Linked DNA regions of Homo sapiens. The protein of the gene in region 1 purifies or fractionates together with the protein of each later gene. This does not show direct contact. Each region holds a gene or a part of one and is shown in the gene's direction. Other genes may lie near its edges.

Region 1 (9,177 bases):
CCCTTCTTTCCTTTCTCCATTCTCTCTTTAGGGGATCGGTGACGTCTTCCATTTTCAAGGGTTTCAAGTGTCCGTCTCCAGCACGGCTCTCCTCTCCGGACATCAGTCTTTTGTACGTAGCTATCTTCCCAACACAGCCACTCAGACATCCTGTAGGCATCGCAAACTTAACGCACCCAAAAGGAATGCCTGGTTTCGTCCCCCCATCCCCCGTGTCATCCCAGAGCACCATCACCCGCCAATATGTGCAAGCCAGGATCCTGGGTAAGCCCTGATGCTTCTCCTCCCCAGACCCCTCTAGTGACTCTATCACTAAGTCCTGTTGAGTCTAATTCCAAAAGCCTCTTAACTCTTTCCATTTCCACTGTCAACACCTGATGAAGGTCTTCTGCATGGAAGCCGCAGGCATGCCTGAGCTCTAGGCAGACACCGCCGGGTAAGTCAGAGCCTCCGTCCCCTCACCGGGGTGCTGATTTGGGTTGTGTTTCTCCCACCCCCAGACAGTCTATGCACTTCGATGGCAGCTGCTCCACCTCCCAGTTCCAGAGCTAGGCCCTACTTGGCTAAACCAGGGATTGCCTTTCTCTGCAAAGGGCCAGATGGCAAAGATCTATGGCTCTACCGGCCACATAAGCCCACTGCATCTATTCTTCATAAGCCCCCACCCACCCCAACACTTTACATGTTTAATGTTCATTCTTAGCTGTTGACTGGACACCACTGGGCCCAGGCTCAGCCTGCCCACCTCTGACTTAACCACGCAGCACATTCCCTTTCCCTGGTCTCTACAGAGTGCAAAGTGGCCTGACCAGGAGGACTCTTCTGACCAATGGTGGCAGAAGCCTCCTCTCTTCTCTGACTTCATGTGCCATGGAAGTGCTTTTTCCTCTGCCACAGGCACTCCTGCTGTCAATGCCTTCTCATCCTCCAAGGCTCAATGCAGCTTCCTGCATTTTTCCTCTGCCACAGGCATTCCCGCCGTCAGTGCCTTCTCATCCTCCAAGGCTCAGTGCAGCTTCCTGCAGCTTGCTCTGACACTCCTGAGCGGTGCAGCTGCAGTGCCCTGGACTCCTGCAACCGTTCACACTCCTCTTCATTAGGAGCCTGCATTTGTACATCACCACTGGAGCTTTTCCACCCATCGTCTCCCTCTTCTGGATGCAGAACAGGCTCAGACAGGCCAAACAACTTGGCCAGTGCTGCATGGCACAGCCAGGTCCGCACTGACTGTCACGCCTCTGTTCCTGCCCTGGACGGTGTCTCAGGTAACACACTGCACTGCTCCCTGACACCATCTCCCCACTAGAACATGAACGCCCTGAAGCAAAGACATCTTCCTGGCCACGTGTTGACCTATGCACGTGACACTGCCTACGGCGCTGAAAGGCCATCAGTTCGTCCTCTCTCTCCTGCCCCTGTGTGTCTACCCCAGTTTTCTCTCTTCAGGCTGGCCAGTGATGGAGACCATCCTAATTGTGCTGGATTTGAACCCTTCAGGCCTAGGCACAAAGAGAGACTCACGATTGTCTCAATGCTAGCTCTAAGCACCCAGGGCCATCCTGGGAGTCAGAATCCCGCCTGAGGTCCTGGAGTGGGTTGTGGGGGGGTGTGCTGTGTGCCTGTCACAGAGCACAGACAGACTGTTCCTGCTGTGTCACTGTGGGAGTTGGGAGTTGTCCTAGAGACAGTGGCACATTGTGAGCTGGGCAGGTCTCACACATGGTATCCACCACCATGGCAGCTGCTGACTGAATGGTTTGGCAACATCTGGTTTTTGCCACTCCAGTCTCATGTCTTCTTATTTTATTTTTAAAATATAGGGCAAAAAATATTATGTCTCAAATCACGGTATCACCGAATATTGGTCACCTCTTATTAGCAGTTTTATGCTCCTCCTGACGTTTGAGAAACAAGGAAATCAATAATCCACTTTAGGCTACAATCTAAAAAGTACCTGTGAGTGTCCTTTCTCAAATAGATTGGGCAGAATTAAAACAAAGCAAGATTGTTTAAAGCTACATTTTTAGTTGCACACAAGGACTATAGTCAAATAGGCTTCAAAAGCACAAAGGCTGTGGTCAGTCATCAGCCCTAGGACACCAGGACCAAGACCAGGCCACAGTCTCAGCACAGCAGGTTGGCAGCTCGCTCTGTAATTGATGAGACAGAAATCTGAGCACACGGATTGCCCTGTGTGGCTGGAAAGGGAAAGGAAGGCTGTCCTGGCCACCGCGGCCCAGGGAGGCCAGCACACCCGTGCGCAGGTCACGTGACCCACTGCTCTGATCCCACCGTTCTAGCCACAGTCTGCCAGGCCCTGGGCATGACAGGAAGGGGGTTCACAGATCAGTGGCATTTACACGGGTAAGCTTTGAACACTGTCTTCAACTGAAAGGCCAGTGTGTGAACAGGCCGGGCAGCTGGACCACTCCGAGGCTGGCGCCTTCCCCTCCTTTCGGGCAGTTCCCAGAAGGCTCAAGACCACAGTTTGAAATCCACTTAATCTCTCGAGTCGGCCTGGGTCTATATCCTAAGACCGTGGAAATCATTTTGTGCCACCGTATCCTGTAGGCATTGGCAGGACCAGCGTAATTTTTAGTTCTTCTCGTGGGAGACAGTCACAGGGTCATGCCATTTAACTGCACTGAAGGGAAAACGTGGGAAATGGATTTTTGGTGCTGTGTAGACCACATTTCATAGCGGTTGGCATCTCACATGCTTATGCAAAGCCTAACTCCGCACCCTGGGGCAGACAGTGGGAGCCCAGCTGGATTCCTACACTCAAGCCCTCCAGCATCAGGTTTATTTTCCAGGACACCAGAGTGATTGTTTATTCCATAATTCCCACAAAGGAGACAGTAAACAACAGAACAGAGGTGGAGCGGGCACGGAAGGCCAGGAAGTGGATGGTGGCTGCCAGCACTTCTGTGGAGACCCAGGGCCCCCCTCCAGGAGCCCCGGTGTTCAACCTCCACAGTGAACAGGGGATGGATGGCTGAGATGTCCTCGAAATTTTTTTGGACTTCCTCAGGCGACCACAGGATTCCTTCTCAAAGAGCCTGATCTCAGCAGGCACCCGAATGGGCATCCTGGTGCTTCATGCTCTACAACAGCTGGGAACGCCATGTCCTGGCCCCAGGCGACTGGAAACTGCTTTCCTCCCCGACATCAGCACCAAGGGGAATGTTCCCAGTGCCATTCTTCCAAGTCAGGGAGAGCGTCACAATAGAAACCGTCTCTGTGGAGAGGATGGCACCTGAAGCCATGGAATAGGAAGGGAGCATCAGAGGCTGCTGGCTGGTCCTGCAGAGCCGCCTGAGAGGCCTGTGGGAGCAGCAGAGGGTCCCGGCCTTGGGCGCCATCCGCTCTCTGCTGCTCTGGAGGGAGAAAAAGGACAAGTTGAAACTTGCACAAGCAGCCTCCATTCTGGGGAGTTCCCTTGTATTCCCCACACCAACCCGCACCTCAGCGAAGGCCTGTGGAAGACTTCTGCAGTGACAGCCCCGATGAACCATGCTTGCCGTGCCCGTCCCCTGTGCGGTGCCTCACGTCCACTCAGGCCCCGGCCATCTCACCCTCCTGGGGAGATGGAGGGAAGCACCATGGGGATTTGCTTTTTCTTGCTGCCGACGGAGCCCAGCCACCACGGGAGGGAGGCCCGGCCAGCCTGCGGTGGGTGGGTGACATGTGGCCCGGATCTGCCCGGGGCGCCTGCCTGTAAGTGGGCCCAGCAGACACCCCATGGAGCCGAGGCAAGCCGTCCCAGCTGAACCGGCTTAAGCTGCAGGCCCACAGAGTCATGAGCAGTGAAGAGAGGTTTTCGCCCTCTGAGGTTTGGGGTGGCCTGTTACACAGAAATACACACAACGTCCTCAGGCACGTATCTCTTTAAGAATGTGTCCCGAGAAGGCGTCCCAGGAGTCTTGATTTTTATTTAGCCGTCCACGGTTGCCCCTTTGGGTGCTTCGCCTTCAGATGGGGTGAAGGGCTCACTTGTTAGCTGGCTGGCCCCAAAGACAGGCTTGTTTTCCACCAGGCAGTGACTGAAGCCGGCAGCCTGCTGCATACCGCGGGCCTTCCCCTGACCTGTCCGGGACTGCGGGCTGGCGGCTGACACCTGCGGAGTGCTTACCGCATACCAGGCTCCCAAACTTCCATCTGTGTTCGTCTTTTAAGTTTTGTTGTTTTCCAGAGTCGGAGTCTCAGTGTTGCCCGGGCCAGAGCGCAGCGGCCATTTATAGGCGCGGACCTCGGCCTCGCACACCACAGCTCCAGCTCTGAGACACAAGCGACCCGCACCCCCCCACCGCCCAGCCCCAGCCTCCAGACTGGCTGAGATCACAGTGTGCGCCACCCCATCCCTGGCTTGCGATGGTCTCTTACTCCCCACTTTACAAGGGAGGAAAGAGGCCGAGGGCAGAGTGGGCCGCCTGAGGTTTGGAGGCCAGGGCTAGTACAACCTCAATTTGACCCTGGAACCTGCCGCTTCCCCCACCCAGGTGCGGGACCCACCCGCTTGTCCACACCTGGCTCTGCCCACCGCCCCCGGCTGCTCCTCTGGGCTCAGGTCGCCGCGGTCAGGAGCTGCCAAGTTTGCCTATCAAACTTTATCTTCGTGCAGAGAACTGCAGCCTGGAGCTGGTTATTCCGGTCAGTGAAAACGTTGCATTTCTACATATGCTTATCATCATCTGTGTAAACATTTCTTGGTATAACTGTGGAACAGTCAGTAAATATAGATAAATCGAAGAGTAGGTCTATTGCATATGCTATAAAAAAATGCTTTTACTATCAACCTAAAACAAACAAACAAACAAAAAAAATCAAACAAAACCACCATCACCTAAACGTTGGTAACTGGAGCAGCTGCTAGTGTCAGTGCGGACTAAACAGGAGACGGCGGGAACCGTGTCCAGCCAGGGTCCTGGGCCGCGACCTGGTTCTCCCGGAGTCTACAGTGAGGATGACGGGCGGGGAGAGGGGGCCGGCGGGACCCGCGTGTCCCAGGCAACTCCGGGAGAGGGAGAAGCAGGGGTGGCTCGGCGGGGGCTCGGCGGGGGCTCGGCGGGGGCTCGGCGGGGGCTCGGCGGGGGCTCGGCGGGGGCTCGGCGGGGGCAGCGCCCGCTGCAGGGAGGAGCGCGGGGGCCCGGGAGCCTGGGCAGCACCGCGAGACGCCACCTCCGCAAAACGCAAACGCCAATCGCCGGGCGCCTGCGGTCCCAGCTACCAGGGAGGCTGAGGCGGCAGGATCGCGTGAGCTCGGAGGTCCACCGCGCTCCAGTCTGGGCGACAGTGAGACCCCGTCCCCAAAACGAAGGCGGGCAGAGTCTCCTCAGCCGCGCTCGGGCGGGCGGCGCCGCGACGCCAGGCCGGTCCCGCGCTCTCGCCCCACGCTCCGGAGCCGCCCAGCCGCGGTCTCTCAGCTCCGGCCGCGCTCCAGCCCCAACGGCCCCGCGCCCGTCCGCCGCAGGTGGTCGTGAGGGAGGTGCCACAGCTCCGGCTGCCCACGACAGACACGGGCGCCCCAGCGCGCGCACGTCCGGCGTCGCTGCGCCGCCCCCGCCCCCTCGGCGTGCGCGCGCCCGGCGGGCCGGCGGGGGCGGGGAGGGGGCGGAGCCGCCGGCGGCGGGGCTGAGGCGCTGAGGCGGCCGTGGCGGCGGCGGCGGCGGCGGCGGCAGCGGCGGCCAAGCGGCCAGGTTGGCGGCCGGGGCTCCGGGCCGCGCGAGGCCACGGCCACGCCGCGCCGCTGCGCACAACCAACGAGGCAGAGCGCCGCCCGGCGCGAGACTGCGGCCGAAGCGTGGGGCGCGCGTGCGGAGGACCAGGCGCGGCGCGGCTGCGGCTGAGGTGAGGGCGGCGCGGGGCCGCGGCGGCTCGGGCGGGCGCGGGCTCCGGACCCCGCGGTGGCGGCGTTTATGTAAGCGCCGGGCAGGGACTGGTGGTGGGGCCGGAGCTGCGGGCCGTCCCGGGAGCGGAGGGCGCCCGCGGAGAAGCGAGGGTGCCGCGGCACCGCCTCGCACCCACCCTCCTGGGTCGCCCGTCTGCTCCGGCGCTCGGCTCCCGGAGGAAGCTGCGCCCGGGCGGCCCCGCGTCCCCTCCCGAGGGCGCCGAGTCCGCGTGGGATGCGCCGCGCTGCGCCGCGGGGAGGGCAGGTGCGCCGGGACGAGGCTGCGCCCTGGGGACCGAGACTGCGTTTTGGGGAGGGGACGGTGTGCCCTGGAGATCGGAGGCTGCGCTGGGGACGAGGCTGCGCCCGGGGACCAGAGGCTGCCCCGGGTACAAGGTTGCGCCGGGGAACGGGAGGCTGCGTTGGCAACAAGGCTGCGCCTGGGGACGGTAGGCTATGTCCCTGGGGAGACGCTCCGCCCGGCATGGGACGCTGCGCCGGGGGACGGCAGGCTGCGCCCGGGATGAGGCTGGGCCCGGGCAGGGGAGGCTGCCTTGGGAGGGGACGCTGTGCCACGGGAGTGGAGACTGCGTTGGGGACGAGTCTGCGCCCTGGACGGTCCTGCGTGTCCTTCCGAGGGCGCAGTGTCCGCGCGGGATGCTCTGCGCCGCGGGCGGCCCGGGCCAGGGAAGTTCCTGCGGGTGCCGGGCGTCTGCAGCGATCGGGAGCAATCTGGGGCAGTTGGGGGCCCGAGGTGACTTTTGACGTGTTCACATCAGAAGGAAAATTATTGCGTGGTGGATGGGTGCGAGGGAAGGTGTCAGATTGGGCTGTGGACGCTGAAACGTGTTGGAGTCCCGATTTACACGCTGGAAAACCTAACCTAAAACGTGTTCCTGTCCAGGTTTCTATGTCGGAGATCTGCACCGTGGTGTTTAGTTCCCAGTTAATATTTTTGGTCAGCAGGTTTGGGCTGTTACTTCTGATACAGGCATTTTACTTCCTTCTTACTAACCATTATTGCATTCCGTTCTCGAAGTATAACGAAAAGTGGCATGATATCAAACTTGTTTCTTTAACGTTTAACTCCATAATTAAGATGATAGAACCGTAGTTTTTTTAATTGAGAATACAAATATGTATTTAATCCTCTTTGTTTCCTCTTAAATTTTGCCGTATGTTTTATTGCTTCGAAAGGTGCCACCCAGAGCTGCATTTTCCAAAACGCTAGGTTGTCTTAAGAGCAGTTGTTTCTAGGAGATAGAAAAGCTAATTGTCTTTTGATGACCATCTTTTCCTTGGGGTTGAGACTGCTGTATCCTTTTTGCCTGCTGAGGGTTTCCCAGAGGGGAAAGGGAGAAGGAAGAAAGGATAAAAGCTTGGCTGATACAGTTCCTTCTTGGATAAGAGAATTAACTGTCTCTCATTGCGCGGTTCCTCCGGAGGACAGGGTCCAGTATGCATGGACAGCCACAACGGGGGCTCGGTAAGTATTTGATGAGACAGGCTGAGCTGGGTGCCTATATCTTGCCTGTGGTGGAGAGGATGAACTCACACAGACTCTGAAAGGAATGCATTGTCTGTGAGTGATGCCCTGTTAGATGTCTGAGGGTTCCTAAGACTGGGTATATCCCACTACATCTACATCACATTTGAAGCTGTAGTTGGAAAGGAAAAAAGGAGGCCCTCCTGCAGGGACAGGGGCTTAAAAATAATCGATCCAGCTCTGAGAAATTGATGACACATGTGTCTCTGGTGTGACGTGCTCATGCAGTTGTTACTGGGAGGCCAAGGGGGAAGGATTAGCTATGAAGTGATAACATCATCCACAAAAAACATCTTGGCTCAGAGGCTAATTTCACTTCCTCGTGAATTTATGTATTGTAAAACATTTGAATTCTTTTAGATTTTTGGAATAAGAATTTTTTTAACTTCTATTTGTCCAGTGAATGCATAAAACAAACTTAATCCATTTGACAAATACTTGTCTGTGGCCTGTTATGTGCTAGGCCTTCCCTGTTTTAGGCCCTAGGAGATACAGTACTTAACAAGATAGGTAGAGATCAAAAATGCTTCTGGCATAAAGCAGTACATTTGTATTGATAGATTTAAAAAGATAAGCAAGCACACAGTACCTACAGAAAGGTAAAGCCTCATTCCACTCCATCCCTGGGCACTTGGTTCAAAGGCTGCACCCAATTGTGTATTGTCCTAGCAGGAGTCAAAGTGTGTATTGTATATGTTTTAATATATGACAAACCTTGCTATAGTGCATATTCTTACACGTGGGTACAAGCAAAGCCTACTAATTAGTTATTATCAAAATTTCTTAGCTGTAAGTTTTACTTAAGAACTGGGTTTTATTCCCTTGAATGCTGTGATTAGCTCTGTGATCAAACAATATAATTCAAATAGGAGGTAGTTAACTTTGGAAAGAAATAGATGAAGTTACACATTTACCAGCCTATAAAAAAGTTTAGCAAAGTTATCAAGCTTAGTTTGAAACCAAAAAGCTCAGAGAGGTCCAATTTTATTAGAAAACTCAATGGTGGCCGGGCGCGGTGGCTCACGCCTGTAATCCCAGCACTTTGGGAGGCCGAGGCGGGTAGATCACGAGGTCAGGAGATCGAGACCATCCTTGCTAACACGGTGAAAACCCGTCTCTACTAAAAAAATATAAAAAATCAGCCGGGCATGGTGGTGGGCGCCTGTAGTCCCAGCTACTTGGGAGGCTGAGGCAGGAAAATGGCGTGAACCCAGGAGGCGGAGCTTGCAATGAGCTGAGACCGTGCCATTGCACTCCAGCCTGGGCAACAGAGCGAGACGCCGTCTAAAAAAAAAAAAAGAAAAGAAAAAGAAAACTCAGTGGTTTTCTGTGTCAACTTTCTAAAATAGGAATTTCTAAATCTGTAATTTGGTGTGATGGAAATGGTGTTAAAAAAAAACCCATATTATTTTGTATGTTCATAATATGTGAGGTAGGAAAAGCAAATGGGAAAATTAAAAATTGTCCAGTGAAATCATTAAGATTCCTTCCTTATTCCTTGAGTGACTTTTCTTTCCAAGTTGACAGCTTTTTATCTGGGGTGTGGACAGGGACAGCGCAGTAGCCCACAGAGGTCTTCGTGGCAGGGCTTACCGCACCTTCCATTTGCAGAGTTTTGCTTCATCCATAGCTTGACAGCTGTTGGGCTAGGGCCATTAATATCAAATTATCACAATTTTTTTTTTTTGGTAGTTTGATTAGTACTGCTTGCTGCACTTTTCCACCTGTATGCCTATAAGATGTC
Region 2 (6,385 bases), on another chromosome or scaffold:
AAGGACTCCCCACCCACAGGACTCCACTCACCCACAGGACTCCCCACCCGCAGGACTCCACTCACCCACAGGACTCCCCACCCACAGGACTCCACTCACCCACAGGACTCCACTCACCCAAGGACTCCCCACCCACAGGACTCCCCACCCACAGGATTCCACTCACCCACAGGGCTCCACTCACCCACAGGGCTCCACTCACCCGCAGGACTCCACTCACCCGCAGGACTCCACTCACCCGCAGGACTCCCCACCCACAGGACTCCCCACCCGCAGGACTCCACTCACCCACAGGGCTCCACTCACCCGCAGGGCTCCACTCACCCGCAGGACTCCACTCACCCACAGGGCTCCACTCACCCACAGGACTCCCCACCCACAGGACTCCACTCACCCACAGGACTCCCCACCCACAGGACTCCACTCACCCACAGGACTCCACTCACCCACAGGACTCCCCACCCACAGGACTCCCCACCGGCAGGACTCCACTCACCCACAGGACTCCCCACCCACAGGACTCCATTCACCCACAGGACTCCCCACCCACAGGGCTCCACACCCACAGGATTCCCTACCCACAGGACTCCCCACCCACAGGATTCCACTCACCCACAGGGCTCCACTCACCCACAGGACTCCACTCACCCGCAGGACTCCACTCACCCGCAGGACTCCACTCACCCACAGGACTCCCCACCCACAGGACTCCCCACCTGCAGGACTCCACTCACCCACAGGACTCCACTCACCCACAGGGCTCCACTCACCCACAGGACTTCCCACCCACAGGACTCCACTCACCCAGAGGACTCCCCACCCACAGGACTCCCCACCCGCAGGACTCCACTAACCCACAGGACTCCCCACCCACAGGACTCCACTCACCCACAGGACTCCCCACCCACAGGACTCCACTCACCCACAGGACTCCACTCACCCACAGGACTCCCCACCCGCAGGACTCCCCACCCGCAGGACTCCCCACCCACAGGACTCCACTCACCCACAGGACTCCCCACCCACAGGACTCCACTCACCCACAGGACTCCCCACCCACAGGGCTCCACACCCACAGGACTCCCTACCCACAGGACTCCCCACCCACAGGACTCCACTCACCCGCAGGACTCCACTCACCCACAGGACTCCCCACCCACAGGACTCCACTAACCCACAGGACTCCCCACCCGCAGGACTCCCCACCCGCAGGACTCCACTCACCCACAGGACTCCACTCACCCACAGGACTCCCCACCCGCAGGACTCCCCACCGGCAGGACCCCCCACCCGCAGGACTCCACTCACCCACAGGACTCCCCACCCACAGGGCTCCACTCACCCACAGGACTCCCCACCCACAGGATTCCACTCACCCACAGGACTCCACTCACCCGCAGGACTCCACTCACCCACAGGACTCCCCACCCACAGGACTCCACTCACCCACAGGAATCCCCACCCACAGGACTCCACTCACCCACAGGACTCCCCACCCACAGGACTCCACTCACCCACAGGACTCCCCACCCACAGGGCTCCACACCCACAGGACTCCACTCACCCACATGGCAGTGGGGTCAGGCAAGCTGGGCAGCGCTCACAACAGGCACAGGGCCCTCCCCCGTGCTGAGCCTACAGTCTTCAGACCTGGGCTTGCACACTGATGGAGGCTTCTGGGCTCGGCTGCCCTGCCTGGCCCTGGAAACACGTATCTGGGAGGAGGTCTCTGGAGTAAACCCTGCCTGGCCCTGCCCTACCCACAGCGCCAGCTTCGCTCCATCCGCAGCTGCCTGATGTCCACAGGCCCTAGTGCAGGAGCGGGACGGGGGCGGGGTGGTTGTGGCCCTGGGGAGCGGCCCCTCTAGCAGCCGGGAGCTGCTCGTCCCCAGGCCCACTGGCCCCTTGTTGTGAGGGCCTGGGACTCAGGGTATTGTTCCTTACAGTCTTCCCATTTTCATGTAGAAAATACATCATCAATTACATCGCTCCCTTTCCTCCCAGAGAAACTCACTTCATCCTTCCCCCCCTGTAAAATCCGTGTGACCCATGGGGTGGGGGAGCCCACGGGGACTTGGGGTCAGTGGTGAGCCCCGGGGTGGCCAAGGTAAGAGTGGCGTCCACATGCTTCCTGGTCAGGCGGCAGCAGGGCGTGGGGTTGCGGCTCCTCGCCTCGGGCAGGGGAGGGGCTCCAAAAACCCTCTTCACATGAGGCCTTGGTGTGTAGTACCTGGTGGGGCTCCCTCTCCTAAGATGAGGCGTCCCCGATCTCTCAGGGCAGACAGCTGCCCGGGAGTCTTTTGCCCAGCACCCTGAGATGTTTGTCTTTCTTTCCCTAGATGGGCCCAAAAGCACAAGAACTGGAGGTTTCAGAAGACGAGGCAGACGTGGCTCCTGCTGCACATGTATGACAGTGACAAGGTGTGTGCACGGCGGGGCAGGCACGTCTCCTGGGGGCTGAGGTCTGTGCACGGCGGGGCAGGCACGTCCCCCCGGGGGCTGAGGTGTGTGCACGGCGGGGCAGGCACGTCTCCCGGGGGCTGAGGTGTGTGCACGGCGGGGCAGGCACGTCTCCCGGGGGCTGAGGTCTGTGCACGGCGGGGCAGGCACGTCTCCTGGGGGCTGAGGTCTGTGCACGGCGGGGCAGGCACGTCTCCTGTGCACACTGGGGCCCTGACAGCAGAAGCCACAGTCTGAAGGGGCCGCCCTCAGGGCCCCACTGCAGGGCAGGTCTCCCGGTGCCTTTGTTCTAAGAGATGAGCAGCGTTGCCTCCTCCAGGAGCCCTGCCGCCGGCCTTCAGGGCAGAAACCAACACGGGGTAACCTTAGGGAGGCCACCTGCACGTGTGCGTGTGACGTGTGTCTACACGTGCGTGTGTGCATGACGTGTGTCTACACGTGTGTGCGCGTGATGTGTGTCTACACATGTACGTGTGGGCAGCTGCCCTTTTCAGGGGCAGGATGTGAGATAGAGTTTCACAGGATGAAACGAGACAGAATTCTGAACTAAACCCGGCTGCTGGGCGGCGGGCTGGAGCTGCCCATGTCCTGTGAGGCTGGAGGAGCCCACGGTTCTGCTGAGCTGCATCCGGTGGGCAGTGCCTCCTGCCTCGCTGGCTCTCCTGCGCCCACGTTACTAGAGGCCAGGCTTTGCGTGCGCGCTGGGGGCAGGGGGCGGTTTTCTCCTGCCGTGCCTGTGTTTGCAGACTCTCAGAGCGGGGCAGGCCCACCAGCCCCACTCACAGCCCTGGGACATTCCAGGCATAGCCTGCAGCCACTTGCTTTCATTATTTTGTTGTTTTTGTTTTTTTGTGGGCGTTTTTTGAGACAGGGCCCCGCCCAGGCTGGAGTGCAGTGACACGACCACAGTTCACTGCAGCCTCGACCTCCTGGGCTCAAGCCACTCTCCCTCCTCAGAGTTAGAGGACATACACATTGCAAGCCCTATTGCAAGCCGATTGTAAGCCCTATTGCAAGCTCCGGTAATCGCGACACTGGGGCAGGCACAAGGGTGGAAGTAGAATTGACTGGAACAGCCTGGGAAGCCTGGAAACCCTCACGCCCGGCGCAGCTGATTCCAGCATGCGGGCCAAGCCTGTTCCATGTGGAGGAAACCTCTTCTTAACAGAGCCAGGGACAACTGGGTTTCCACGTTTTGTTTTGTTTTAACCAAAGTTTACGTGGTTTTATTTATATGTTACTATTACCAAAAGTAAACTTTATACAAAACTTTTTATACAGAAAAATAATCCTTGGTTAGGCAAATCCTTGGTTAGCCATTTATATGTGTGTATACACACACACACACACGCAAAGTTATCTTACACTATTGTAATTAAACATATTTACAAACACACAAATGTGCATTTTACTTATACATTTTTATTTCATATGTAACCGTACATATTTACGAACATGCCGATACTTAATGCACGCAGCCCCCAGCTTCAAACCATATGCAAAAATTAACTCAAAATGGATCAGAGACTTAAATTTAAAAGCTAAAACCAAAACTCTTAGATGAAAGCCTAAGAGTCCATTTCGTGCCCTTGGGTGAGGCAACAGTTTCTTAAATGTGACTCTAGAAGCACAAGCGACAAAGGAAAAAGTCGAGAAAGTGCCTTCATCAGGATCTAAGACTGTGTAGCCGGGCGTGGTGGCTCACGCCTGTAATCCCAGCACTTTGGGAGTCTGAGGCGGGTGGATCACTTGAGGTCAAGAGTTCGAGACCAGCCTGGCCAACATGGCAAAAACCCCGTCTCTACTAAAAATACAAAAATTAGCTAGGTGTGGTAATGCTTGCCTATAATCCCAGCTACTTGGGAGGCTGAGGCAGGAGAATTACTTGAACCTGGGAGGTGGAGATCGTGCCACTGCACTGCAGCCTGGACAACAGAGCAAGACCGGCTCAAAAAAAAAAAAAAAAAAAAAAAGAATCTAAGACTTTGCACTGCATACAGAACTAGCTGGAAAGTGAAATGGTTGCTACAGAATGGGAGACGTTTGCAAGTCCCACATGGAATTAGAACTCTGCTAACTCAATAATAAAAAGAGCCCAGTGTTGAAAGCCGCTGCCACAGGGACCTGAGGAAACGTGCCTGCAGAGCAGATTGTCAGGTGACTGGTGAGCCTGTGCAGAGGTGCCCCCACCACCAGCAGACAAGGGTCAGGCCACCAAGAGATGCCACCTGGCCACTGCCGCCCTGAGCAGAAAGGCGAGCGTGCCAAGTGCCGGCGCGTACTTGGCTTTTTGTTCTGAATGCACCTTTCATCACCGCCTACCCCTGTTTAATTTGTGTCGTATTTTCTCGTTTTTCTGAGGATTTTTACGATGTTTGTGAAATGTTCTCCCCACATGGCTTCTGTTTTACCCAGGTTAATTGAGTGTTTTGTCTGCCTCTAAACAGGCATTTCTTCTTCCAGTGTCTGGGGCAGGGTCTGTGGCCAGGCCGCCCACACCCTCGGGCCGCAGTGGGAGGACGGAAGCCTGAGGCCCGGGTGTCCTTGGCTGCAGCGTCTTGTCTCCTGCTGTTCAGCGGCCCCTCCCTGCCCCGCCCCTGACCAACTCGATCTCTTTCCCGTCCAGGTTCCCGATGAGCACTTCTCCACCCTGCTGGCCTACCTGGAGGGGCTGCAGGGCCGGGCCCGAGAGCTGACGGTGCAGAAGGCGGAAGCCCTGATGCGGGAGCTGGATGAGGAGGGCTCTGATCCCCCCCTGCCGGGGAGGGCCCAGCGCATCCGACAGGTGCTGCAGCTGCTCTCCTAGTGGGTTCAGCGCGGGGCGGGGCCGCTGCCCAGTGCAGGGCTGCCTCAGACCACACAGGGTGCAGCTCCTCCGGCGGTGGGGGCCGGGTTCACCAGCAGGGCAGCGGCTGAGCAAGGGCTTTCAGCTCCTCCGGTGGTGGGGGCCGGGATCACCAGCACCAGAGCCTCGCAAGGGCCCCTTCCCTCCTCCAGACCCTCCTTGGCCGGTGACGGCTGTGACAGTGATGGCAGGTTCAGTGCCTTCAGCGCAGAGCGTGGATGCTCTGGAATCACCCGGACCCCTGGCCTTGGAGGGACCCTCCAGCCCCAGGAATCTGCTTTGGAGGGAAATGTCTATTTTTCTACCGGGAATATTTTAGAGATTGGGGCATGCTGGCTCCTCCCGCCAGCTGCAAACCTGCACCTTCCGCCTGATTCCCGATCCCCCTGCGTGGGCCGCATTCCTGGTCCCCTGCCTGCGTCCATCGAGGGGCCTGGCTGTGGCCTGTTTTCCTTTGACCCCACACAGCGTCATTGCGGGTCATGGGGAGCCCCTGGTGGGAGCTTGTGGAGTCGGATCACGTACCTGTGCAGAAACCGCCTCTGTGGCTGCATTTGAAATAAAACCCGACCCAGCAGCAGCCGTGGGTCCTGCTCTGTGCGGTGCGTCCCCTGCCTGTGGACTGCGGAATTCGTGTCCCCCATGCCAGCGCACGCCAGGCTGAGACCCCGCCCTTGGTGGCCACCCCAGGATGGCATTGGGGGCGCTCTGTGTGTGGCGTTCCTGGCAGTGGGTGCTGGCTGATCGCTTGCGTTCAGGCCGGCCGTTTCCCAGCGCTGGCAGTGACTGACCCTGCCAGGAAACACACTTAGGCCGCACAGAATCAAGCCACACACTTCCTGTTCCCAGCAGCACGTGGTCCCTGCCCCCAAGTGATGTGAGGTGCCGCGGGGCACCGGGAAGGCCGTGGTGACCGCAGAGCTCTGGGCAGCTGCCGGGGAGGGCCGGGTGGCCATGGCGAGGAGGTCCGTGCCCCACTGTGAGGCCAAGTCTGTTCCAGGATGGGCCCCGGGGAGGGCTGAGGCCAGTGGCTCCGGTCTGGGCCTCCACAGAGCAGACACCCAGGTGCTGCTGCCCCGG
Region 3 (8,309 bases), on another chromosome or scaffold:
AAAATTAGCTGGGCGTGGTGGCGCATGCCTGTAATCCTAGCTATTCAGGAGGCTGAGGCAGGAGAATCGCTTGAACCAGAGAGTCGGAGGTTGCAGTGAGCCGAGATCGTGCCACTGCATTCCAGCGTGGCAACAGAGTGAGACTCCGTCTAAAAAAAGAAAGAAAGAAAGAAGAAAGAAAATGCAATAAAAAATTAAATTAGCTTTAAGGACTATAATTCTTTATGAGATTTCTGTTTAGTTTGTGGGCATGTCAAATCATGTAATTTTCCCGTTAACAAGAAAAGCATGAGCTCCCTCTAGTGGCTAATCTAACAGTTTTTTTAAACAATAGGCCAAACATCGCAGCTCCCACCTGTAATCCCAACATTTTGAGAGGCTGAGGCGGGAGGATCACTTGAGCCCAGAAGTTTGAGACCAGCCCAGGCAACATAGCCAGACCCACCCACCCGGTCCCTCATTTCTACAAAAAAATTTAAAAATTAACCAGGCATGGTGGTGCACACCTATAGTCCCAGCCACTTGGGAGACTGAAGCAGGAGGATAGTTTGAACCCAGGAGGCTGAGGTTACAGTAAGCCATGATTGTGCCACTGAACTCCAGCCTGAGTGACACAGCAAGACCCTGTCTCAAATAATAATAATAATAAAACAATATATTTTAATCAGAAAAGGATGAAGACATGACTGGCTTTTCCGAACACAGTCAATATCATTGGTTTCTAATGAGAAAGGTAATAACAAGGATTCACACGTTAGTCACTTACTGATTTTCAGGTAAATTTTATCTGCGTTTGTCCAAGATATTTTAAGTTCCTGCTTTAATAAATCACACAGTTGAAGAATTGGAAGTCATTAGAGATTATCCATGCATTCATTCATTCATTCAACAAATATTAACTGATTACCTATTATATGCATGCATTGCTCCAAGTGTACAGGATAGACAATGAACAAAACAGTCTTCATTAAGCTCATATTCTAGTGCATAAAGACAGGCAATAAACAACTAAACTAGTAAGTATACGATATATCAGAGACGGATAAGGGCTTTGGAGAAAATGAAGCAGGGGAAGGGAGTGTGGGGTGAGCAGAGGGCTGTGAGGTCAGGGAAGACATCTCTAATAAGTTGTCATTTGAGCAGAGACTTGACAATGAGAGAGCAAGGCTTGTGGCACTTGAATCAGAGGAAACAGCAAGTGTGAAGGCCTGAAGTTTGACACATTTAAGGCAGCTAGGGGATCATTGCAGGGTTGAAGGGGCGCAGAGTAAGCAAAGGGGAGAGTGATGGGAGAGGAGCCCAGTGAGATAGTGTGGGGTCAGATCATATAAGGTTTTGGGCTGCTATAACAAATTACCACAGACTCGATGACTTCAACAACAAACATTTATTCCTCACAGTTCTGGAGGCTGGCAAGTCCAAAATCTAGGTGCCAGCAGATCTAGTATCTTAGTATTTGATGAGGCACTCTTCTTGATTTGCAAACAGATGTTTTCTCGTATCCTCACATGGCAGAGATCAGAGAGAAAGGAGGTAAGCTTTCTTGTGTCTCTTCTTACAAGGATGATAATCTCATCATGAGGACTCCACCTTCATGAACTAATTACCTCCTAATACCATCCCATTGGGGGTTAGGGTTTCAACATATGAATTTGGCGGGACACAATCATGCAGTTCATAACAGCCTTCTATGCCACTGAAGAACTTCAGCTTTTACTCTGAGTGAGAAGGGAAGTTGGAAGAATAACCTGATCCATTTAAGGCTCTCTCTGACCACTACATGGAAATACAGTGTAAGAGGGTAAGGGAAAATGCAGAGAGACCAGTTAAAGGTCAGTTACCAAGTATGTTTCCAGGAGAAGGGAGAGACCAACTGTGTCCAATGCTGCAGGTTAAGTTAAATAATGAAAATTGATGTGATTGGTGATCTTGATAAAAAACAGTTTCAGTGGAATGGTAGAAGCAAAAGATTGATCGGCAGTTTCTTAAAAGTTACACGTAAACCTATCATATTGATCCAGTTATTCTATTCCTAGACATTTACCAAGATATTTATGTCCACATAGAGACTTGATGGCACGACATGGTGGCTCAAGCCTGTAATCCCAACACTTTGAGAGGCCAAGGCGGGAGGATCACTTGAGGCCAGGAATTCAAGACCAGCCTGGACAACATAGTGAGACCCTGTCTTTTATATATATATATATATTTTTTTTTTTTTTTTTTTTTTTTTTTGAGACGGAGTCTTGCTCTGTCACCAAGGTTGGAGTGCAGTGGTGCGATCTTGGCTCACTGCAACCTCCACCTCCTGGGTTCAACCGACTCCCCTGCCTCAGCCTCCTGAGTAGCTGGGACTACAGGTGCGCGCCACCACGCCCGGCTAATTTTTTGTATTTTTTAGCAGAGACGGAGTTTCACCATGTTGGCCAGGATGATCTCGATCTCCTGACCTCGTGACCCGCCGCCTCGGCCTCCCAAAGTGCTGGGATTACAGGCGTGAGCCACTGAGCCCAGCCAAAAATATATTTTTTTAAATTAGCTGGGCATGGTGGCACACCACCTGTAGTCCCAGCTACTAGGGAGGCTGAGTTTAGGAGTTCAAGGCTGCAGTGAGCTATGATCATGCCACTGCACTCCACCCTTGGTGACAGAGCAACACCCTATCTCTTAAAAAGAGACTTGAACATGAATGTTCACAGCCAAAACTGGAAACAACCCAAATATCCAGCAACTAGTGAATGGATAAACAAATTGCAATATGTCTATATGATGGAATACTACTCAGGAATAAAAGGAGTGAACTATTGATACATACAACACCATGGATACATTTCAAAATAATTATGCTAAGTGAAAGAACCTTGACCTCAAATAATAGGTACTGTATGATTCCATTTGTATACAATTCCAGCAAACACAGACATATCTTTGGTGACAGAAAGCAGATGTGTGTTTGTCTGGGGATGATGAGGCACAAGGAACGTTTGGGGATGATGGATATAGTCATTATTTTGATTGTGATGATGGTTTTATGGGTACATACATATGTCAAAACTTATCAAATTGTTCACTGGGTAGTTTGTTGTACATCAATTATATCTTAATAAAGCTATAAAATAAATACATTATAATTTTAAAAATAAAGGATGGAATTTCACATGAAAGCAGAGATGTTGGCCTTAGATACCCAAATTATTTAACATCTGAAAAATATATATTCAGTTAGCCACTCTTAGTCTTAGAGTTCTCATTTATCAAAAACAAATCCTGCCTTCCATGCTGCTGGAGGTAAAATGAACTGACCTATATGCCCTCCTTAGAATAGCAATTAAAGCCTTTCATATCAGGACAATATAACCTTCTCAGCTCTTTCCCTGCTGCACCCTGCCCTCCCAGCCTTTAGTCACACCAAACTTATGGCTATTGTTTCAATACACCAGACATTTTCAAGTACCTGTACGCAGTCTTTTTTCTTTTTTTTTTTTTTTTGAGACAGGGTCTCACTGTATTGCCCAGGCTGGTGTGCAGTGCTTCACTGCAACCTTAACCTCCTGGGCTCAAGCAACCCTTTTGCTTCAGCCTCCTCAGTAGCTTGGACCACAAGCCTGTGCCACCATGCCTGGCTGATTTTTCAACTTTTTGGTAGAGATGGGGTCTCACTATATTGCCCAGGCTAGTCTTGAACTACCCAGCTCAAGTGGTTCTCCCACCTTGGCTTCCCAAAGTTCTGGGATTACAGGCTTGAGCTACCACACTTAGCCAGATTTTGTTTTGAGAATACTTTTTTTGCCCTCACTAAAACAACCTAGCCAAAAAATTTTAATTTAAATCTATGCTTTTTAAAAAAGATTTATTGCTGACATTTATTTCTTAACTTCACAGGTAACTGATTTGATAATTAATAAATAAGTCATTCTCCAAAAGCAGCTGAATAACATGGTTTGTGAAGCATTCTTTATTTTGTGTGCAGGTGTGATTACAGAGTTGTTTTGTTTGGGGCTCATTTTATCATCGTCACAGATGAGGTTGGCGTTCTATAAAATTGCTTTGGTTAAGCAGAACCCTATTGTCTGGCTATTTTGCCAGACCAGCAACCAGCTACCAGCTGTTAGGCTATGTTTTTTCTCATGTAGTTACAATCAAGACTGTCTAGATTGAAATCTCATCTTCCTCACAGGCTATGAATTGAGGCAGTCAACTTCCCTGAGCTTGTTTCCTCTTCTGTAAAATGTAGATAACAATAGCACCTATTTTAGAGGGTTGTTCTGAGGATTAAATAAGTTAATACAAGTGCTTGGAATAGTGCCTGGCACAGGGTGGGTAATTAGGTTTTTTTTTCTCTCTCTCTAATTCACAACACCCTACCTCATTCATTCAACCCTTATTGATTTTTTACACCTTGAGATTGTAGAAATGTATTCTCCTCTTCGAATTACCAGGATCTGAATTAAAAACTCTGACTGAGGAGTGCTTACAAAGCTTATAACGATGGTTGAATTTTAACGATTAATTGCATTTATTAATGGTCAACATGATCACATTTTATCCAGCCCTCTTTTCCCTTGTATGGGTCACGCTAAGTTGAAACAACCAAAACCAAAATAAAAACATATCTAAAATCATACACATTAACTTATATGACCCTCGTTGCTCTTTTTTCCTCCTAAGAGGGAATAGTGTTATCTAGCGCCACGGTTCTTTTCAGTTTTGTTTTGTTTTGTTTTGTTTTTTATACGGAGTTTCGCTCTTGTTGCCCAGGCTGGAGTGAAATGGTGCAATCTCGGCTTACCGCAATCTCCGCCTCCTGTGTTCAAGCGATTCTCCTGCCTCAGCCTCCCTAGTAGCTGGGATTACAGGCATGCGCCACCACGCTCGACTAATTTTGTAATTTTAGTAGAGACGGGGTTTCTCCATGTGGATCAGGCCGGTCTCGAACTCCCGACCTCAGGCCCGCCTTGGCCTCCCAAAGTGCTGGGATTACAGGCGTCAGTTTCTAATTTTAGACTGCGGGATTAAAAATAAACGATTAATCCTCATTTATGTGCTTCATATGGGTGTCGGAATGACGATACATGCTAACACACGTGAAAAAATTTACATTTCAGATCCTTTCAGAAACGCAAGGCAATATTAAGTAGTAGCATATGCCCAAGGGCGAGGGGCGGGTCGGCGGTGGCTGGCTCTCCAATACACCACAGAGTATTTTGGCAACGAGAGTAATTTTGACACTCTGAGGCTTCCGTAGCATAGCTCGCTTTAGGAACCGCTAAGGTGTCGCCTGCCTAGAGTCCCATGCGCTATTTCCGGTCATACCCGGAAACACGAGTCCAAGCTGCAGCTGGCAGGGATTGCGGGGTGCCGGCCGTCTGAGTTTTTTTAAAACTGCTCGCCGCGAAGTCTGTCTGCAGCCAAAATGTCCAACAGAAACAACAACAAGCTTCCCAGCAACCTGCCGCAGTTACAGAATCTAATCAAGCGAGACCCGCCGGCCTACATCGAGGAGGTGGGAGTGCGGCGCGGCAGACGCTAGAGGCCGGATAGTGGATGGTTGAGACGCCGGTGCGGGAAAGCATGGAGTGGGGCTGGGATCCAGGCTCGCCGCCTATTCTTCTGTTAGGTTCAGGGGTCCCTCCAGAGGAGAGAAGGGGTTGGGGACGGGACATGCCTTAGGGTTCGTTCCCCACCTCTTGAAAATCTGTTGCCCCTTTGGATTTTCTACCTGCCCTGCTGCCGCTGAAACACCTTTAAAACCTCATTTTGTTTTAAGATATTTTTCTTCGTCCGCACGGAAGTGGAGAGAGAAATGGGCCGCACCCAACCACCAACTTCCACGCGGATTTCTCAGCCTCTTTTCAGAAATCCCAAACTTGAATTAGTCGGTAACCTTTGATGAATCGTATGTTAGAATGCTTTCGATTGACGTCCGTTTCTGAGAGCAGGCTGTGTACCCTGGACTGTGCCAGGAAAGGGGGGGGGGGGGTTTCTCAAGCACAACGGACAGACTCGGGAGCTTAGTATATTTAGTTAAGCCAGGATTCAAACTTACCGGAGACTGGCATGACTCGGATGTCAGAATTTGCTTCGGGAAAAGATTAGGTTGAAAAATTAGGCCCTCATTGTGATGGGCTTTGTGTACTGACCTCATGTAAGTTGTGAACATTAGGGGTGTTTGAACCAAGTACCGACAAAACGAAAGTGGTTTTTGATATATTAATCTGACAGGTGCTTCCTTCAGACACTCATTTATCAGACGGGCATTAAACAGGTATCTCTGCTAGGCATTTGCTGCAATTACATGTTTGTGCTTCTACCAGATTGTGATTTGTTCAGTGGCTAACACAATTACTTATTTTTTCATTGCCCTTCTCACTTCCCTCCTCCCCTAAATTTTCACATATATGTATTTTATGAGTGCTTTTTAACACATGGCAATCTCAGTGGCTTAGGTCACCAGTAGAGAAAGCCTCTCCAAGGATCAAGGTAGTGGAAATAAAGAGTAGGAAACAAGTACAAGAAGTTAAGTAACATAGGCAAGGCTTTGAGATGCTTAAAGCATTGTATAGCCATTCGCAAAGAAAGTGGTAAGTTGAGAGTCTATATAATTCCGTTAGATAACTCCTGCTGCTGACTGTTGTTAACCAGTTGTGTAACCGAAGCAGGTTAATCGCTGAGCCTATGTGGGTATTTTAATATGTAAGAAGGGGGTAATAACTACTTCTTTAATTCACTTAAGTATATATGCAAAATCACATATAACTACTGTGTGTTGTTATTCTAGGTAGGCGTTGGGGTACAGTAATGAATAAGACAGATAAGAAAGCATTCTTCTCTTGGACTTACATTCAAGTGAGTGTAGACTTATTATGGTAGAGATTATGAAGAAAATAAAACTGGATGGGAATAGGTTAGAATTGGAGGCTTCTGATTTAGACCCCGTAAACAGGGAAGGTGGCTCTGCAATGATGATATTGAGCCAGGCAGGTAAACATCATTTTAGGTACAAGGAATAGAAAGTGCAGAAGCTACTGGTGGAAAAAAAGCAGAGAAGAAGCCAGTGTAGCTAAAGTGTAGTCAGCATAGAAGAGGGCAGTGGAAGATGATGTAGGAAATGCAGGCAGGGGTCAGCTTATTCAGAGCCTCTTAGGCCCTGTTAACGAGTTTAGATTTCACTCTGAGTGCCTCGGGGAGTGATTGAAGAGTTTTAAGCAGGAGAGTGACATGATCTGACATATTTTTTTTAAGAATTTACTCTGGAAGTTACATGTGGAATGGCTTGTAGAGGAGCAACACTGGAAGCAGGGTAACTAATATAATGGATCTCAGAATAACCAAGCAAGGGATTGTGGTGTCATTGGAATTATGGGCAAAGATTCGTGCTGTTCTACGTGGAGGTAGAGCTAGTAGAGCCTTGGGATTTCTGGTGGAGTGGATGTGGGGGATAAGGAAAAAAGAAGGAATGAAGGATCACCCAGGTTTTTTATTTATATGTCTAGGTAGATGATAGTGCCATTTCCTGAAGTTCGTTCATTTGACAAATACTGTTGATTACCTGCTATATGTAAGGCACAATGCTGGGCCCTGGGACTACATAATATTGAGCTGTACCGATAAAAATTCTATGCTCATTAAATGACATTCTAGTAGGGGGTGATATACAGTAACAAATAATATAGTATGTTAAATAATGAAAAGTGCTGTGAAAAAAAGACAATAGGAAAGTACTTATGTATGTTGGGGGTGAGATGGGTATTGCAGTTTTAAATTGGATAGTTAGGGAAGGTCTTCTTGAGATAGTAATCTTTGAGTGAAAACCTGAAGGACATGAGGGAGAGCTGTGCATATGTTTAGGAAGAATGATCTAGGCAGAAGGAACAGAAGGTATAAAGACCTTGGGGTAGGTATGCCTGGTAGATTTCAGGAACATAAAGGCCAGTGTGGCTCCAAATAGGGAATGAGGAAAGGGGGTGAATTTGGGATTCTACCTCCCAATGAGATGGAAGCCTTTACAGGGTTTTGAGCAGAAGAATACATGAACCACCCTATATGAGAACAAGATCACCGTTACTTGAGGATAGACTGTATGTAGGAGGGCAAAGATAGAAGCAGAGACACCACATAAGAAGCTATTGGAATTATCCACAGCAAGAGATGATGCTGGGTTGAGTGGTGCTAGGATGGTAACAGGAAGTAGTAAGAAGGGTGATTAGATCCTGGATTGGGTAGGTAGAGAAAGCCCTGGGGATTCCCAACATTTAAAGGCCAGTGAGTTTCTAAGTAACTGGAAAAAGGGACTGAGAAAGCAGCCAGTG

Evidence for each region. Proteins that work in one complex are often made in the same cells at the same time.
Region 2: the proteins of ADARB1 (region 1) and CHLSN purify together in Homo sapiens (affinity purification with mass spectrometry; 2 studies listed by BioGRID and IntAct, with this or other methods). This does not show direct contact.
Region 3: the proteins of ADARB1 (region 1) and SDAD1 purify together in Homo sapiens (affinity purification with mass spectrometry; 2 studies listed by BioGRID and IntAct, with this or other methods). This does not show direct contact.

Annotation. Positions count from the first base shown.
Region 1 is NC_000021.9:45,068,947-45,078,123, forward strand, and holds the start of ADARB1 (double-stranded RNA-specific editase 1), read left to right. Parts: upstream 1-5,633; 5' UTR 5,634-5,847; intron 5,848-6,104; exon of another isoform or gene 6,105-6,152; intron 6,153-9,177. UniProt on the Homo sapiens protein: Catalyzes the hydrolytic deamination of adenosine to inosine in double-stranded RNA (dsRNA) referred to as A-to-I RNA editing.
Region 2 is NC_000007.14:996,506-1,002,890, reverse strand, and holds the end of CHLSN (protein cholesin), read left to right. Parts: intron 1-2,339; coding exon 2,340-2,421; coding exon of another isoform or gene 2,422-2,425; intron 2,426-5,086; coding exon 5,087-5,266; 3' UTR 5,267-5,457; coding exon of another isoform or gene 5,458-5,475; 3' UTR 5,476-5,885; downstream 5,886-6,385. UniProt on the Homo sapiens protein: Hormone secreted from the intestine in response to cholesterol, where it acts to inhibit cholesterol synthesis in the liver and VLDL secretion,leading to a reduction in circulating cholesterol levels. Acts through binding to its receptor, GPR146.
Region 3 is NC_000004.12:75,987,946-75,996,254, reverse strand, and holds the start of SDAD1 (protein SDA1 homolog), read left to right. Parts: upstream 1-5,309; 5' UTR 5,310-5,413; coding exon 5,414-5,503; exon of another isoform or gene 5,504-5,544; coding exon of another isoform or gene 5,545-5,559; intron 5,560-8,309.